Linked DNA regions of Homo sapiens: region 1 is linked to region 2. A link means that fine-mapping ties the variant in region 2 to the expression of a gene that starts in the linked region. Tissue or cell type: whole blood. Region 2 holds a variant in brackets; the other region holds the start of a gene. All regions are shown on one strand. Distances are from middle to middle.

Region 1 (8,000 bases), 140 kb before region 2:
TCCTCTTGTGCTTTTGAGTTCATTTGTTGTAACTGGCCAGAGAAAACTCTCTGCTTTAAAAGAGCTCATGTGATTAGGTCAAGCCCACTTGGATAATCTCCCTGTTTTAAGACCAACTGTGCTATATAATGTAATCTGATTATGAAAGTAAAATCCCTTATAGTCACAGCCTGGGGATTATGGAGAGTGTGTATATTCGGAGTGAGAAATCCCGGGGGACATCTTAGAATTCTGTCTACCACAATAGGTAAGAGTTAGACAAGCACTGATAGCTTTCTAGGTGGGAAAGAAATGTGGAGAAAAGCTCAAAAGTGAAACTCTACCAGGAATTTCTGGAGACTGTGAATATGTCAGTTTGTGACTGCTCTAATAATGATAATGGTTTCTTTTACTGAAGGTCTCCTAGGTGCTTTACAAATTCCCTTACATCAGCTCTGTGACGGTGCTATTATCCCACTTGCCGGAGTTATATCTCCATCAAGTTGTGAAGCTGGGGTTCTGGCTTGAGCTCTGGATGGCTCTGAATTTATGCTGTTTGCACTGTTTAACCTGCCTGTCTGTGGGTCTAAGGTGGGGAAGCTGAAGGCAGTAAGGTTGGTCTGGACCCAGATTGTGGAGGGCATTGGTGTTAACACATGCTAACAGGCACCAAGAAAGATTTTAGAGGGAGCCAGTGAATGTGGAAATCAGGGGGACGGAAATGGGTATGATTATGGATGTTGGGGAGCACATGGGCTGGATGTGCAATGTGATATTCTTTTTGGGAGGTTAATATGGCCAGTCAGGCATTAAAGATGATTACATGATCAAGCCTCTGAGTCTTCCTGCCAATCTGTAGGAAATATATAGTTCAGAAGAACAAGTTAAACTACACATAAATATACAATCAGCAAAGTGGGGACAGGGTGAGGATTTAACAAAATCATACACTTTTTGGGAGGCTATATATACTTTGGGAGGCCATTTATACTTTGGGAGGCCAAGGCAGGTGGATTTCTTGAGTCCAGGAGTTTGAGATCAGCCTGGACAACATGGCGAAACCTTGTCTCTATCAAAAATACAAAAATTAGCCGGGCGTGGTGGCATGCACCTGTGGTCCCAGCTACTTGGGATGCTGAGGTGGGAGAATCACCTGAGCCTGGGGAGGTCAAGGCTGCAGTGAGCCGAAATCACACCACTGCACTCCAGCCTGGACAATCGGAGTGAGACCCTATCTCAAAAAATAAAAACATAAATAAAAATAAATAAAATAAAATAATTTTTAAAATAAAAAAATCATATCGTTCCATCACTCAACTTTTTTTTTTTTGGACAGGGAGTCTCACTCTGTTGCTCAGGCTAGAGTGCAATGGCACGGTATCAGCTCACTGCAACCTCCACCTCCCAGGTTCAAGCAAGTCTCCTGTCTCAGCCTCCCGATTAGCTGGGATTACAGGCACCTGCCACCACACCTGGCTAATTTTTGTATTTTTAGTTGAGACGGGGTTTCACCAGGTTGGCCAGGCTGGTCTTGAACCCCTGACCTCAGGTGATCTGCCTGCCTCAGCCTCCCAAAATGCTGGGATTACAGGCGTGAGCCACCGTGCCTGGCCCCATCACCCAAATATTTATACTATTAACACAAAGTAATGGGCAGAGAAAACAGCTGTGGTGGTTGTGGTAGGACTAGACAAAAATTTTCATTTGATGTGAGAATCTTTTGCTTGGAGGCATTACTGAAAGTGTTTACCTCAGAATGGGAAAGCTTGGGCAAAAGCGAATTTGAAGTAAGTAAGACGTTTGGAAGATGTCTTTTTTTTTTTTTTTTTTTTTTTGAGACAGAGTCTTGCTCTGTCGCCCAGGATGGAGTGTAGTGGCGCGATCTCCGCTCACTGCAAGCTCCGCCTCCCGGGTTCACGCCATTGTCCTGCCTCAGCCTCATGAGTAACTGGGACTACAGGCGCCCGCCACCACGCCTGGCTATTTTTTTTGTATTTTTAGTAGATACGGGGTTTCACCGTGTTAGACAGGATGGCCTAGATCTCCTGACCTCGTGATCCGCCCGCCTCAGCCTCCCAAAGTGCTGGGATTACAGGCGTGAGCCATCGCGCCCGGCCTGGAAGATGTCTTATACAAAGCGTGAGGGAACTGGATAATTTGGTCTTACCTATCAAAATATAAAATGCATATACTTTTGCGTTTTTCTCTTTCCTGGTAGGCATTTGCGCTAGATAAATACACAGATGCACAGCACAGGGGTAAGTACAATTCATGCAGAATTGTTTTTTAATAGTGAAAACCAGGACCCAACCCAAGTCCATGAGTAGGAAATTGGTTCTGTAAATAGTTTTATTTCATGCAATGGAATATCATGCAGTCATTAAGAAGAATGAGGTAGACCTCTACCAGCAGTGAAAGATAAGGGCATTTTAATCAAGGGCAATCATACCTAGTTCCAGGAAAATGTTTATTAATCTCATTTAGTTAGAAAATATATATGTAGAAGTGAATCTATAGACAAGTCTAGAAGGCTACACACCCAGCTGTTAAACAGAATGTCTTTGAGGAGGGCAGGGGGCGGAGTCTGCGTTTACGTGAATGGGACGCTGCTGTTTCTCAGTGCACCTCTGCTGTTTGAATCTTTTACTAAAAACCTTCCCATGCATTGCTGGGAGGGAATGGAAGGAGTATTTTGAGGGTTTCGTGTGAAGGGAAAAGTTGAGGAGGGGACGTGGGAGACCCCTTGGTCTCATCAAACTCTAGCGCCGCTTGAGGTGAGGAGACCCCGCCCCGCTGAGGTGATTCTGCAGAGGGGCGGAGCCCCCCAGATCCGAGGCGGGAGGCGGCCCGGGGGCGGGACCAGCCGGCTCCAGCGGCCCGCTCCGCTCCCACCATGCCCTTATAAGGAGCGCCCGGCGTTAGGGCTCGGGAATCCGGTAGCAATCCCGGCGGCTCAGCCCCAATCCCAGGCCCCTCCCTTAGGAATGGGGGAGGGGCGGGGTTTGGCGGCGCGGTGGCTGGGGCGGAGCATCTCGAAAAGGGACCAGTAGGAGTGGCGGCCCAGGTCTGAGCTGCGCTGCCATTGGGCGCGGCGACGAGAGGGGGCGGGGAGCCCGTGAGGCTGGTTACGCCGAGGGAAGCCCCGACTCCGTAGTCGCTGCACAGTCTGTCTCTTCGCCGGTTCCCGGCCCCGTGGATCCTACTTCTCTGTCGCCCGCGGTTCGCCGCCCCGCTCGCCGCCGCGATGCCAGTGTTTCATACGCGCACGATCGAGAGCATCCTGGAGCCGGTGGCACAGCAGATCTCCCACCTGGTGATAATGCACGAGGAGGGCGAGGTGGACGGCAAAGCCATTCCTGACCTCACCGCGCCCGTGGCCGCCGTGCAGGCGGCCGTCAGCAACCTCGTCCGGGTGAGCGCGCAGGGCCTGGCGCGGGAGCGGGCGCGGGAGGTATCCCCGGGGCCCCGGCCCGCGTCGCGGCTGCCTGTGGCCGGCTCGCTGGCCGTGGCTTTCCGCGTGGGTTCCGGAGCCAGGCGCCGAGGGTTCGAATGGCCTCTTCTCCGCCCTGTGACCTTGAGCGAGTCCTGAGCCTCTCCGGGCCTCAGTGTCCTCATCTATAAAATGGGAGCAGTCATGAAAAAGGCTGCCTTGCGGGCTTGTCGTGAAGATATGGCGAGGTATTATTCGTGGAGTGCCTCGCGCGGCGTGTGGCCCACAGCAGACACCCAATAAATGAGAGTTGCTGGGATGTCCGAGGGTCCCTGCCCCGCGCAGGCTTCGCCCCCACGTTGACTTCCTCGCTCTCAGCGCCTTTTAGGCCTCCTCGATCTGGCTGTGCGGGGGAGGGAGAGCGGGCCTTCCCACGGATCCCTTGCCTTCTCTTCTAGGGATCCTTATTTGAGCCACGTTGTCCTCCTTTCTAATACTTCTGCCCCTCACCCTGAGACCCGCCTCGCCCACCCCCGCTCCCCAGAGCTCCCTGTATTCCGCCCTTTTATTCACTTGCCTCACTCTCTGTCGCCTCCTCCTCCCTCCTGGGCATTTTACTTATGCTCACTCCTCTGGCACTCTCACACCTTTATGCAGTCATTCGTGACCACAAGCCCGGTTTTTCCTTCCGCTCAGCCCTGCTGCCCTTCCTTTCATTCCCTCCTGTGGACATTTTCACCTGGCGTTACCTGCTGTCAAACGGCCTCCTCCCACTGGGGCCTTTCTAGACTCGGGGGCCCTCCTTGGCCCCTCCTCCTGGCAGGAAGCAAGATGGAGCTGTTGGGAGAGGCCTGTGGAATCTGGGATCTGCCGCCCCTGCCGGAGAGAAGGCTGGGGCATCCGCTCCCCATCCACAACTTTCCTGGTGGCTCTGCAGACCCCTGTAACCCACAGCTGTGACTCATAACCGAGGTGATTCCTGGAGGAGGTGGAGCCCACGTCTGAAATGGGAAAAAAGAGGTGCTGAGACCAGTCTCCCAAGACTCCCCTGGCTAATGTCACACTTTTCTTTCCCACCCTGGGTGGGTGACTCAGACTGGTCCTGCTTGTGAGGAACAATTTTGGAAAAAGTTCATACTGCTCCCCCACTGAGCTGTGTAAATAGTGTGTGTCAGGGCAGTTGGGCGGCAACTGTGGGTCTGTCTGGGTGGGGCTTGGGTTACTTTTCTGATTTGAGCACTTTAGTGCACTTAGAGGCTCTTTAGCAGCTGAAAGTCTTCCTCAGTCTTCAGGGGTCCCTGGACTGTCTCAAGCAATTTAGGAGACTGGTAGCTAGGAAGACAGGGTGACACCACCGACCAAATTCCTGATCTTTCTTCTCTATAGCTTTAGTAAGAATCTATTCATTCAGTAAGAATGCTGTATTCATTCACAATGTCTACTTGTACATTGTTCTTCTTTTTATAACTAATTTGAACAGAACACTCCAGAGTACATTCTTATGTAGTGTTGTCTAACATGGCTGCATTCCAGGCCTCCATTTTTCAACAAATAGGAAACAATGTAAAGAGACAAGGTAATAGTGTCTCTCCATGTAGTACTTCAGGAAATGAAATCTTAAAACCACATGTTGCACTTGGAACAGAGCTAGTGTAGTCTAGGGGTTGATATCTGGTTAGGCTATTTAGAGAAAAGTTATTTATGGGCTTCCATGCCATGAATTAATAAGCATTGAATGTCTGCTATATGGAAAACACTGCAATAAATCAGTGCTTCTCAGCTTAAGAGTGTTCATGAAAATCATCAGTGAGGCTTTTTAGAAATTAAGATGTCCAGCTCCCACGGGTCAAGGCCTTTGTATTTTGCTTTTTTTTTTTTTTTTTTTTGAGACAGGGTCTCGCTCTGTCACGCAGGCGCTGGAGTGCAATGGCGTGATCATAGCTCACTGCAGCCTCCATCTCCTGGACTGAGAAAAATCCTCCCACCTCAGCCTCCCAAGTAGCTGAAGGCCTTTGTTTGTTTGTTTGTTTGTTTGTTTTTGAGATGGAGTCTTCCTCTGTCACGAGGCTGGAGTGCAGTGACACGATCTGGGCCCACTGCAACGTCCTCCTCCCAGGTTCAAGTGATTCTCCTGCCTTAGCCTCCCGAGTAGCTGGGACTACAGGTTCGCACCACCGTGGCCAGCTAATTTTTGTATTTTTAGTAGAGGCGGGGTTTCACCATGTTGGCCAGGATGATCTCCATCTCTTGACCTTGTGATTTGCCCGCCTCGGCCTCCCAAAGTGCTGAGATTACAGGCATGTGCCACTGTGCCCGGCCAGGCCTTCGTATTTTTTAGGAAGCTCCATAGGTGATTGTGATATACGGCCTTAGTTAGGAAACACTGTAATACACACTGTGAGACAAATACAAAAGAAATAAGGTTATAAGATGAAAACAATGATATGTAGTTAAGTTATATACTTTCCAACACATACAAAAGAGGGGACTTGAGATTGGTGGTAGCTATGGGTTAGCAGAGACAAAGTAGGGAGGATTGTGCTGATAAATAGTTAATCATGAACAAAGGTACTTGTGAGTAAGTCACTTCCAGGTTACAGCAAGTAGATTATCTTGATTGCAGCTCAGGAGACAAGTTGGAGAGAAATTGGAGATGAAGTTAGTGCGTGACATATGGGCAGTGTAACATAGGCCTTATCCAAAAGGATGAACAAAGAGAGCAGGAGGGGAAGGAGGATGAGAATAGTGTGTGAGAAAGACTGCGTGAGAATGGCGTGTGAGAATAGTATAGTGTGTTTTGGGGAGGCCAGAGGACCTACCCATTGCTTCACATTCTTGGTGCCAACTGTGACCGTTAAATATGTGGATTCTGTACATGCTTCAAGATTGTTCCTGGAGGTCAAGCCTTGTCTGATATTCCTCTCTTTTTAAAAAATTTTATTTTGGTTTTAAATAGAGACAGGGTCTTGTTATGTTGCCCAGGCTGGTCTCGAATCCCTGGGCTCAAGCAATCCTCCCGCCTTGGCCTCTCAAAGTGCTGGATTACAGTTGTGAGCTACTGTGCCTGGTCTGATATTTCTTTATATGGTCCTCAGTTCCTGCCCTCAAAATTGGCACATAGGATCACTCAATAAATATTGTTGAAGGAACTATGGGAAGGGAGACAAATTGGGAAGCTTTTAAAATTGGTTGGTTATGAAGAAAATGAAGGCCTGGACTTGCGAGTGGCAGGGAAAATGGAGAAGGAATTAATCAGAAATATATTAGAAGAAGAAATAATAGAACTGGATAATTGAACTCTGAATTTGCTAGAAAAGAAACATAGTATTACGGTAAAATAATGAAACTGATTTTAGAACAAATCTTCTGGAATTTATGTAATCTGGGTGAGTATTTCTTGGGAGTTACTTTGGGAGGTTATATCCTTATTCTAGTGCTTTTCTTTGGGAATTTCTTTCAGATTATTTACATACGTATGCCAAATTAGTCTTATTTTGGTCAAGAAAGTGTACATTTTGACTGAAGTAGGCATTCTTGAGCTCAACTACTTCATTTACTGTTCTTGAGCCTAAATGACTTTTGGATATTTCCATAATTAAAATTTACTAGATGAAGATGAAATTTTCAATTGTTGTAATAGTCATTCACTTATCAAGCAGGTGTTTATTGAGACCCCTTCCAATGTCAAAGCAATAAGTGTGATGCCTGTCACAATCAGTATGATACTGAATTGGAAGTCTTTTTTTTCTGAGATGGAGTTACGCTCTTATTGCCCAGGTTGGAGTGCAGTGGCATGATCTTGGCTCACCGCAACCTCTGTCTCCCAGGTTCAAGTGATTCTCCTGCCTCAGCCTCCCTAGTAGCTGGGATTACAGGCATGTGCCACCACGCCCGGCTAATTTTGGATTTTTAGTAGAGACGGGGTTTCTCCATGTTGGTTAGGCTGGTCTTGAACTCCTGACCTCAGGTTATCCGCCCGCCTCGGCCTCCCAAAGTGCTGGGATTACAGGCGTGAGCCACCACGCCCGGCTGAATTGGAAATCTTAAGTGGCACTGAGGAAACAGAGTATGATGGAAAGTCAGAGGAAGACGAGATTACTTTTGATTGGAGAATCAGGGAAGGCTTCACAGAGGATATAACATTGAGTTGGGTCTTAAAGACAGATAGGATTTGAATATTTAGAGATGTGGTAAGAAAGGTATTACTTGGCCAAGTATGGTGGCTCATGCCTGTAATCCCAGCACTTTGGGAGGCCGAGGCGGGCTGATCACGAGGTCAAGAGATGGAGACCATCCTGGCCAACAGGGTGAAACCCCGTCTCTACTAAAAATACAAAAATTAACTGGGCATGGTGGCACGCGCCTGTAGTCCCAGCTACTCGGGAGGCTGAGGCGGGAGAATCGCTTGAATCCGGGAGGTGGAGGTTGCACTGAGCTGAGATCTTGCCACTGCATTCCAGCCTGGTGACAAAGGAAGACTCTGTCTCAAAAAAAAAAAAAAAAAGAAAGACATTACTTACTTTTATGGGGGCAGAACTCATTAGGATTTGTAATTTCATGTATATTTGCTAAGCAAAGTAGTCTGGTCACT
Region 2 (8,266 bases):
TTGAACCCGGGAGGCGGAGGTTGCGGTGAGCCAAGATCATGCTACTGCACTCCAGCCTAGGGAACAGAGTGAGACTCCGTCTCAAACAAAACAAAACAAAACAAAACAAAACAAGCAAACAAAAAAAACCCCTCTATAGTCCTAATATTATTCCTCAATATTTTCTTGATATTTCTAGGTTGAATTTAATTCCTATTACATATTATACCAGAAAGTATTGAAACATTAAATTGGAATTTGAGCTATAAACTTCATTCACCCTGATTATCCCAAAATACATATAGATAAGCTTAAATTATTTGGTATATTCCGCAAGACAAAATAATAAAATGTAAATATAGAAGAGTTCATAACCAATGAAAATCTTGAGACCATTGAGAGAACTGTATGCGGAGGGCATTATTGTTTCCTGATGATATACAGTCATCCCTTGGTATTTGTGGGAATTAGTTCCAGGATCCCCTGTAGATACCAAAGTTCACAATTCTCAAGTCGCTGACATAAAATGGCATAGTATTTGCACATAACTTATACACATCCTCCTATATACTTTAAATCACCTCTAGATTACTTGTAATATCTAACACAGTGTAAATGCTATGTAACTATTTGTTATACTGTATTGTTCAAGTAATAATGAGAAGAAGTTTGTACATGTTCAGTTCGATTTTTTTGTTCAAATATTTGCCATGTAAGGTTGGGTGACTTTATGGATGCAGAACCCATGTATATGGAGAGCCAACTGTAATCTGTAATACATATAAAAAATAGTGAATAGAGCAGCCATGTGTGTAACTGTATACCACACAGAAAAGGGCTTATGAATTTACGCTTAAACAGAGAGAGACAGACAGTAAACATCAAAACCTGGGTAATTAAATAATATAATCATGTCTCACCTTCAGCTAACTTGGGTCATTTAACTTAGAAAGGTATGATAGATAACCAACCTGAAAAGTGTCAGCAACTCGATGTAGGAACTCAATTACAAAGAGAGGTGGCACTTCGGTCTGTATGACAGATACAAAGAAGAGCTTATCCCGGTAGATACTGATGAGGTAGTGGTGAGGTGTTGAAATGACAGGTGGTACATTTTCAACATCAGCAGCTTTCTCTTGAGCTTCAAAGAAATAATCACAGACAGACTGGCTCACAACGCTCTTCCAGTGCTTCTCTAGAAATATGTCACCGGAACAGTTTATGAGAAATAGACTGTGGATCATTTTCTGTTGGGGCAAAGAAAGGTTTAAATTTATTATACATTAAATATCATTTAACATACACAAAAAGATTATACACCTTGACCAAGTGGGATTTATTCTAAGAATGCAAGGCTGGTTCAACATACAAAAATCAATCAACATGATATACAATAAGAACTAAAACAATCATTTCAAAAGGTGCAGAAATTGCATTTGACAAAATCCAACATCCTTTTACGAAAAAAAAAAAAAAAAAAGAAAGCCATTTAAGAACAAAAAGAAACTTCCTCAGCCAGGCTCAGTGGCACATGCCTGTAATCTCAGCACTTTGGGAGGCTGAGGTGGGCGGATTGCTTGAGCTCAGGAGTTTGAGACCAGCCTGGGCAACAGGGCAAAACATCATCTTTACAAAAAATACAAAAATTAGCCAAGCATGGTGGCACTTGCCTGTAGTCCTAGGTACTCAGGAGGATGAAGCAGGAGAATTGCTTGAGCCCAGGAGGAAGATCGACGCTGTAGAGAGCTAAGATTGCGCCACTGCACTCCAGCCTGGGTGACCAAGTGAGACACTATCTAAAAAAAAAAAAAAAAAAAAAAAAAATTTCCTTAACCTGATGAAAACCCCACAGCTAATATTATATTTAAAGGTGAAAGACCGAACACTTTCTCCTTAATAACAAAACCTAACAAGGATGCCCAGTCCCATCATTTCTATTCAACATGGTACTAGAGGTTTGAACCAGGGCAATTAAGCAAGAAAATAAAACAAAAGGCTTCCAAATTGGAAAGGAAGAAGTAAAACTGTATCTGTAGAAGATACAATCTTATATATAGAAAATCCTAAGGAATCCACACACACACAAAAAAAAACCTATTAGAGCTAATAAATTTAGTTCAGCAAGCTTGCAGGACACAAGTCAATATAAAAATCAATTATATTTCTATCCACTATAGCTATAAAATACTAAAAATGGGCTAGGCATTGTAACTCATGCCTATAAACCCAGCACTGTGGGAGGCTGAGGAAGGAGGATTGCTTGAGCTCAGGAGTTTAAGACCAGCCTATGCAACATAGTGAGACCTCATCTCTATTAAAAAAAAAAAAACAAAACAAAACTGAAAATGAAATAAAACAATTTCAGGCCGGGCGTGGTGGCTCATGCCTATAATCCCAGCACTTGGGGAGGCCGAGGCAGGTGGATCACCTGAGGTCGGGAGTTCAAGACCAGCCTGGCCAACGTGCAGAAACTCTGTCTCTACTAAAAAAAAAAAAAAAAGGCCAGGCGCGGTGGCTCACGCCTGTAATCCCAACACTTTGGGAGGCCGAGGTGGGTGGATCACGAGGTCAGGAGATCGAGACCATCCTGGCTAAGACGGTGAAACCCCGTCCCTACTAAAATTAGCCAGGCGTGGTGGCACGCACCTGTAGTCCCAGCTACTCAGGAGGCTGAGGCAGAAGAATCGCTTGAACCCGGGAGGCGGAGGTTGCAGTGAGCCGAGACTCAAGATTGCACCACTGTACTCCAGCCTGGGTGACAGATTGAGACTCCATCTCAAAAAAAAAAAAAAAAAAATCCCAGCTGCCTTTTCGTGGAATTTGACAGGCTAATCCTAAATTCATAAGGAATTGAAAAAGATCAACAGCCAAAACAATCTTGAAAAGGAACAACAGGGGCGAACGGGGTGGGGTGCGCCATTCCTCCCTGGCCAGGGTGCTTGGGAGCAGGGACCCCCACCTGCAGCTGAGCATCCTTCCTGGGAGCCACTCTGCTGTTCCAAGGACCTGGGAGGAGCCCTCGGTCCCCCGGGTGCCAGGGCCCTGGGGCGCACACATCCACCCCAGCCCGAGCCTGCGTTTCCTGAGCCAGGATCTGGGGCGAGATGGCTGCAGGCGGCCGTGCGCCCAAGCCCCACGTCCTCGTCTGCCTTGGGGCGCTCCTGGCCAGCTGGTCGCCGTAGGTTAAACTCACCTTACACCTGTAACCGGTGGACTTCCCTACATACCTTTGCAAGCCCTTCTGTGCCGACCAGCGCCTTCAAAGCGGGGTCTTCTGCCTTTACTTTTGGAAAAGCTTTTCATTTTGAAATACTTGGCTGACTTACAAAAGACTTCCCCTCACACTTGACATGATTGACAAAAGGTCTGAAATGCTTCATCTACAGTCTGATTTACTATGAAACAAGAATTGGGGGGATGCTTACAAAAATATGTAGAATTAAAAAGATTGAAAAAATATATATATTTGAATTAAAAAAAAAAAGGAACAACGAAGATGGATAACTCGTGCTTCCTGATTTCAAAACTTACTACAAAACTACTATGTGGTATTGGCACAAGGACAGACCTACAGATCAATAGAACATTAACCCTTACATTTATGGTCAACTGATTTTCAACAAGGGTGCCAAGACCTGGGTGACCAGTTGGAGAGAGAACAACCTTTTCAACAAATGGTACTGGAACAACTGGATTTCCACATACAAAAGAATGAAATTGGATACAAAAAGCAACACAAAATGTATCAAAGACCTAATTGGAAAAGCCAAAATGATAAAACTCTTAGAAAAAATATGCATAGATTTTGACTCTGGATTAGACAATGTTTTTTAAGATACGATACCAAAAGTACAGACAAGAAAAATAAAAAATAGATAACCCAGAGTCCATCAAATTTAAAACTTAGTGCTTCAAAGGACATTATCAAGAAAGCAAAAATTCACAAAATGATAGTAAATATTTGAAACCATATATCTTAAAGGGACCCCTATCCGGAAAATATAAAGAACTTTTACTCAATAATAAGAAGGGCCAGGTGTGGTGACTCACAACTGTAATCCTAGCACTCTGGGAGGCTGAGGAGGGAGGATTGCTTGAGCCCAGGAGTTTGAGACCCCGTCTCTATAAAAAAATTTAAAAACTAGCCAGGCATAGTGGCTCATACCTGTAGTCCCTGCTACTTGGGAGGCTGAGGTGGGAGGATTGCCTGAGTCCAGGAGTTTGAGGCTGCAGTCAACTATGATCCCACCACTGCACCCTAGCCTGGGTGACAGAGGGAGACCTTGCCTCTAAAACATAAAAAATAAATAAATAAACAAGCCAATTAAAAAATGGGCAAAGGATTTGAAAAGACATTTACTCAAAGAATATATACATACAAACGAATCTTACAAATACGATGTTGAATAAATGAAGCCAGATGCAAAAGAATATACACAGTATGATTCCATTTATATGAAGTTGTAGAACAGGCAAAACTAATCTACGTTAAATCAAATGGTTTCCTTTATGGAGAGTGGAGGGCCATGGGGATGATCTCCTAGAGTGCTGGTAATGTTTTATTTCTTTTTTATTTTCCTTTTTTTTTTTTTTTTGAGATGGAGTCTTACACTGTCGCCCAGGCTGGAGTGCAATGGTGTTATCTCGGCTCACTGAAACCTCTGCCTCCCAAGTTCACGAGATTCTCCTGCCTCAGCCTCCCTAGTAGCTGGGATTACAGGCACACACCGCCACACCTGGCTAGTTTTTTTTTTTTTTTGTATTTTTAATAGAGACGAGGTTTCACTATGTTGGCCAGGCTGGTCTTGAACTCCTGACCTCGTGATCCGCCTGCCTCAGCCTCCCAAAGTGCTAGGATTACAGGAGTGAGACACCGCACCTGGCCAATGTTTTATTTCTTGACCTGCATGATGTTTACAAGCTGTGTTCCTTCTATGATAACTCATTAGGCTTTACATTGTGATTTGCATACTTTCTGAGTGTTAGTTATGCTTCCTATAAGAAGTTTATTGTCCCTGCAATATGGGGGACAATG[G/C]AAAAATGTCTAATTATCTTACCTTGTTCCTATCTTTTACGTGTATAAGCACCAGTATCAGGTGTTTAGTCTAGTGGCTCAATCATTCCAAGTAATAGTACTATAGTCTAAGAAGAAAGAATTTAAGACCTATGAATACAGTTTCTATGAATGAAGATAAATTCCAAAGAGGAAAGGAAGACTTTCCAGAATTGATTCATTTGATTCTGTTGACAGAAAACAACATCAACCCTTTCTTTTATGAAAGCGGCTGACATTTAAAGAATATGTGGTGATGATCTCCTCTTCCCATTCGACACATGTTCAGTAGTTATCAATAATACTAGTTACTAAGATATGTTTTAGTAATTATTGTATTAATAAAGTATGAATACTGTTAACAGTTTAGGGTTCCTGTTTAATTAGAACCAAAAAATTTCTTTGTTTAAAGCCCTCTGTTTAGCCAAGAAATCAACTTGAGTTATTAGCAATAAACTCTGACACCTCAGGGTTGGAACCTGCCAAATTTTTCTACTTTATCTAGTCAGATGCTTTGCTTAGTAGGCTTGCTTTGTGTCTTATATTTCTGTCTGGGTATTAATATAAGTGCCATTAGAATACTTAGACTTGCTATATAGAACCTGCTGATTTTAACTATAATCTTTAGCTGATAAACTTTTCATTTTCATTTTTTAAATGAAACAGGAATATCCAACCATAAGATCTGCAACTAAATTTTTATTATTACACCTTTTTCTTGGAAGAAAATCAGCATCTGAAATATATAATGTATGACTTCAAGTGGAGCACTGTAATCCACAAGCAGACTCAGATTTGGGCACTTCAGGTGAGTCACATATGGAACACAGCATTCTTTGCAAAAATTAATCTTTTGGCCCCATTCAATGTGGTTATTTTTGGCCAGGCACAGTGGCTCACGCCTGTAATCCCAGCACTTTGGGAGGCCAAGACTGGTGGATTACCTGAGGTCAGGAGTTCAAGGCCATCCTGGCCAGCATGGCAAAACCCTGTCTCTACTAAAAATACAAAAATTAGCCGGGCATGGTGGCGTGCGCCTGTAATCCCAGCTACTTGGGAACAAAGCTTGTTTGTTTGTTTGAGCAGAGTCTCCCACTGTCACCCAGGCTGGAGTGCAGTGGTGTGATCTCTGCTGACTGCAACCTCCGTCTCCCATGGGCAAGCAATTCTCGTGCCTCAGCCTCCTCAGTAGCTGGGATTACAGGTGTGCACCACCATGCCCAGCTAGTTTTTCTGTTTTTAGTAGAAATGGGGTTTCACCATGTTGGCCTCAAGTGATCCGCCTGCCTTCGCCTCCCAAAGTGAAGCTACTGTACTCAGTCCCCATTCAAAGTGTTTTATTCATTAAAGATAATGAATAATAAATGAATTAATACTATCTAAAATGTATTGAGTACTTATTATGGGCCAGACACTATGCTAGACACTTTATCTCATCTTATTTTCACAATGCTACACCATAAATACTACTATTATCCCCATTTTACAGATAAGACAATGTCATCTCAGAAAAGTTAGGTCAATTACCTAAGATCACGCAGTAAGCTAGGATTCAAACCTAAATCCAGCTGAATTCTGAGCTCCTGCTCTTATCTGCCTTGTAGAGACTAATTATTAGGAACACGTTCTAATACAGCACTGTCCAACAGGGCTTTCTGCAATGATGGAAATGTCCTTTATCTGTGCTAATATGGTAGCCACTACACCCATGGCTATTGAGCACTTGAAATGTGGCTAATGTACCCAATACTGAAGTTTTAATTTTTTTGAAATTTTAATTAATTTTTTTTTGAGACGGAGTCTTGCTCTGTCTCCCAGACAGGAGCGCAATGGCGTGATCTCTGCTCACTGCAAGCTCCGCCTCCCAGGTTCACACCATTCTCCTGCCTCAGCCTCCCGAGTAGCTGGGACTACAGGAGCCCGCCACCACGCCTGGCTAATTTTTTGTATTTTTAGTAGAGATGGGGTTTCACCATGTTAGCCAGGATGGTCTCGATCTCCGGACCTCATGATCCACCCGCCTCGGCCTCCCAAAGTGCTGGGATTACAGGCGTGAGCCACCATGCCCGGCTTTTTTATTTTTATTTTTTTTTTGAGATAGGGTCTCGCTCTGTTGCCCAGGCTGGAGTGCAGCTGCGTCATCTTGGCTCACTCCAACGCCCACCTCCAGAGCCCAAGCGATCCTCCCACTTCAGTCTCCTGAGTAGCTGGGCTTACAGGCGTGCATCACCACACACAGCTGAGTTTCAAATTTTTGTTTTGTAGAGACAAAGTCTGCCTATATTGCCCAGGCTGATCCTGGACTCCTGGGCTCAAGTGATCTTCCCACCTTGATCTCCCAAAGTTCTGGGATTACAGGTGTGAGCCACCAAGCCTAGCCTGAAGTTTTAATTTTAATTAATTTAAATTTAAATAACCATATATGGTTAGTAGTTAATATATTGAACAGTGCATGAATGTGCTGCTTTAGCTTATGATTTTTTTTTTTTTTTGAGACGGAGTCTTGCTCTATTGCCCAGGCTGGAGTGCAATGGCACGATTTCCTCTTACCACAACCTCCGCCTGCTGGGTTCAAGCGATTCTCCTGCCTCAGCCTCCCGAGTAGCTAGGATTACAGGCATGCGCCACCATGCCCAGCTAATTTTTTGTATTTTTAGTAGAGATGGGGTTTCACCATGTTGGCCAGGCTGGTCTCGAACTCCTGACCTCGTGATCCGCCCGCCTCAGCCTCCCAAAGTGCTGAGATTACAGGCATGAGCCACTGCACCCAGCCTAGCTTATGATTTAAGAGGAGGAGGTAAAAGACATTTCTTGTTTAGTTAGGAGGCAAAAGACATTCTAGTTGTTATGCTGAGGAAGTTTAATAAATTATTTAGAGTGGAAGTTATATTTAAAAGCACCGACACAGGTTATCTAAAATCATTCATCCTATCGAAAATATAGTTCACAAGGATTTATAGTGCTCCTTTGCCACAATACACTCTGAAAGAGTTGCTTGTTTTGAAAGTAAGTGATTTTGTAGTTACTTTATTTTAGGGCCAGATCTCTACTCATCCTCTTAAGCTGGTGAAAAATTCTTTCCAGGAAAGTTTCCACCGAAGTTGTTTTTATTGGCAGTAGTTCAGGTCTCAGAATACAGAAAGTTAAACCAGCCTCCTAGATTTATTGTTGTTATCCTTAGTGCTGAGATGAAAGCATAACACTTGTAAGTTCTCGACTGTGCTTAGCTTTAAA

The links. PIP is the estimated chance that this variant, and not a neighbour inherited with it, causes the effect.
Region 1: VCL starts here. The variant in region 2 is fine-mapped to the expression of VCL in whole blood (INTERVAL, PIP above 0.99).

The regions. Positions count from the first base shown.
Region 1 is chr10:73,994,985-74,002,984 of GRCh38, forward strand. VCL (vinculin) reads left to right here and starts at 3,132. Exons shown (of 22, transcript NM_014000.3): 1 at 3,132-3,391. The coding sequence starts at 3,224. RefSeq lists silencers at 2,741-3,100, 3,431-3,480 and enhancers at 3,161-3,360, 3,433-4,084.
Region 2 is chr10:74,137,157-74,145,422 of GRCh38, forward strand. It overlaps AP3M1 (adaptor related protein complex 3 subunit mu 1), which reads right to left. Exons shown (of 9, transcript NM_012095.6): 2 at 951-1,226. The coding sequence starts at 1,223. Among named protein-coding and RNA genes, the nearest start is that of AP3M1, 9.5 kb to the right of the region's middle. The variant G/C (reference allele first, on the strand shown) is at 5,015.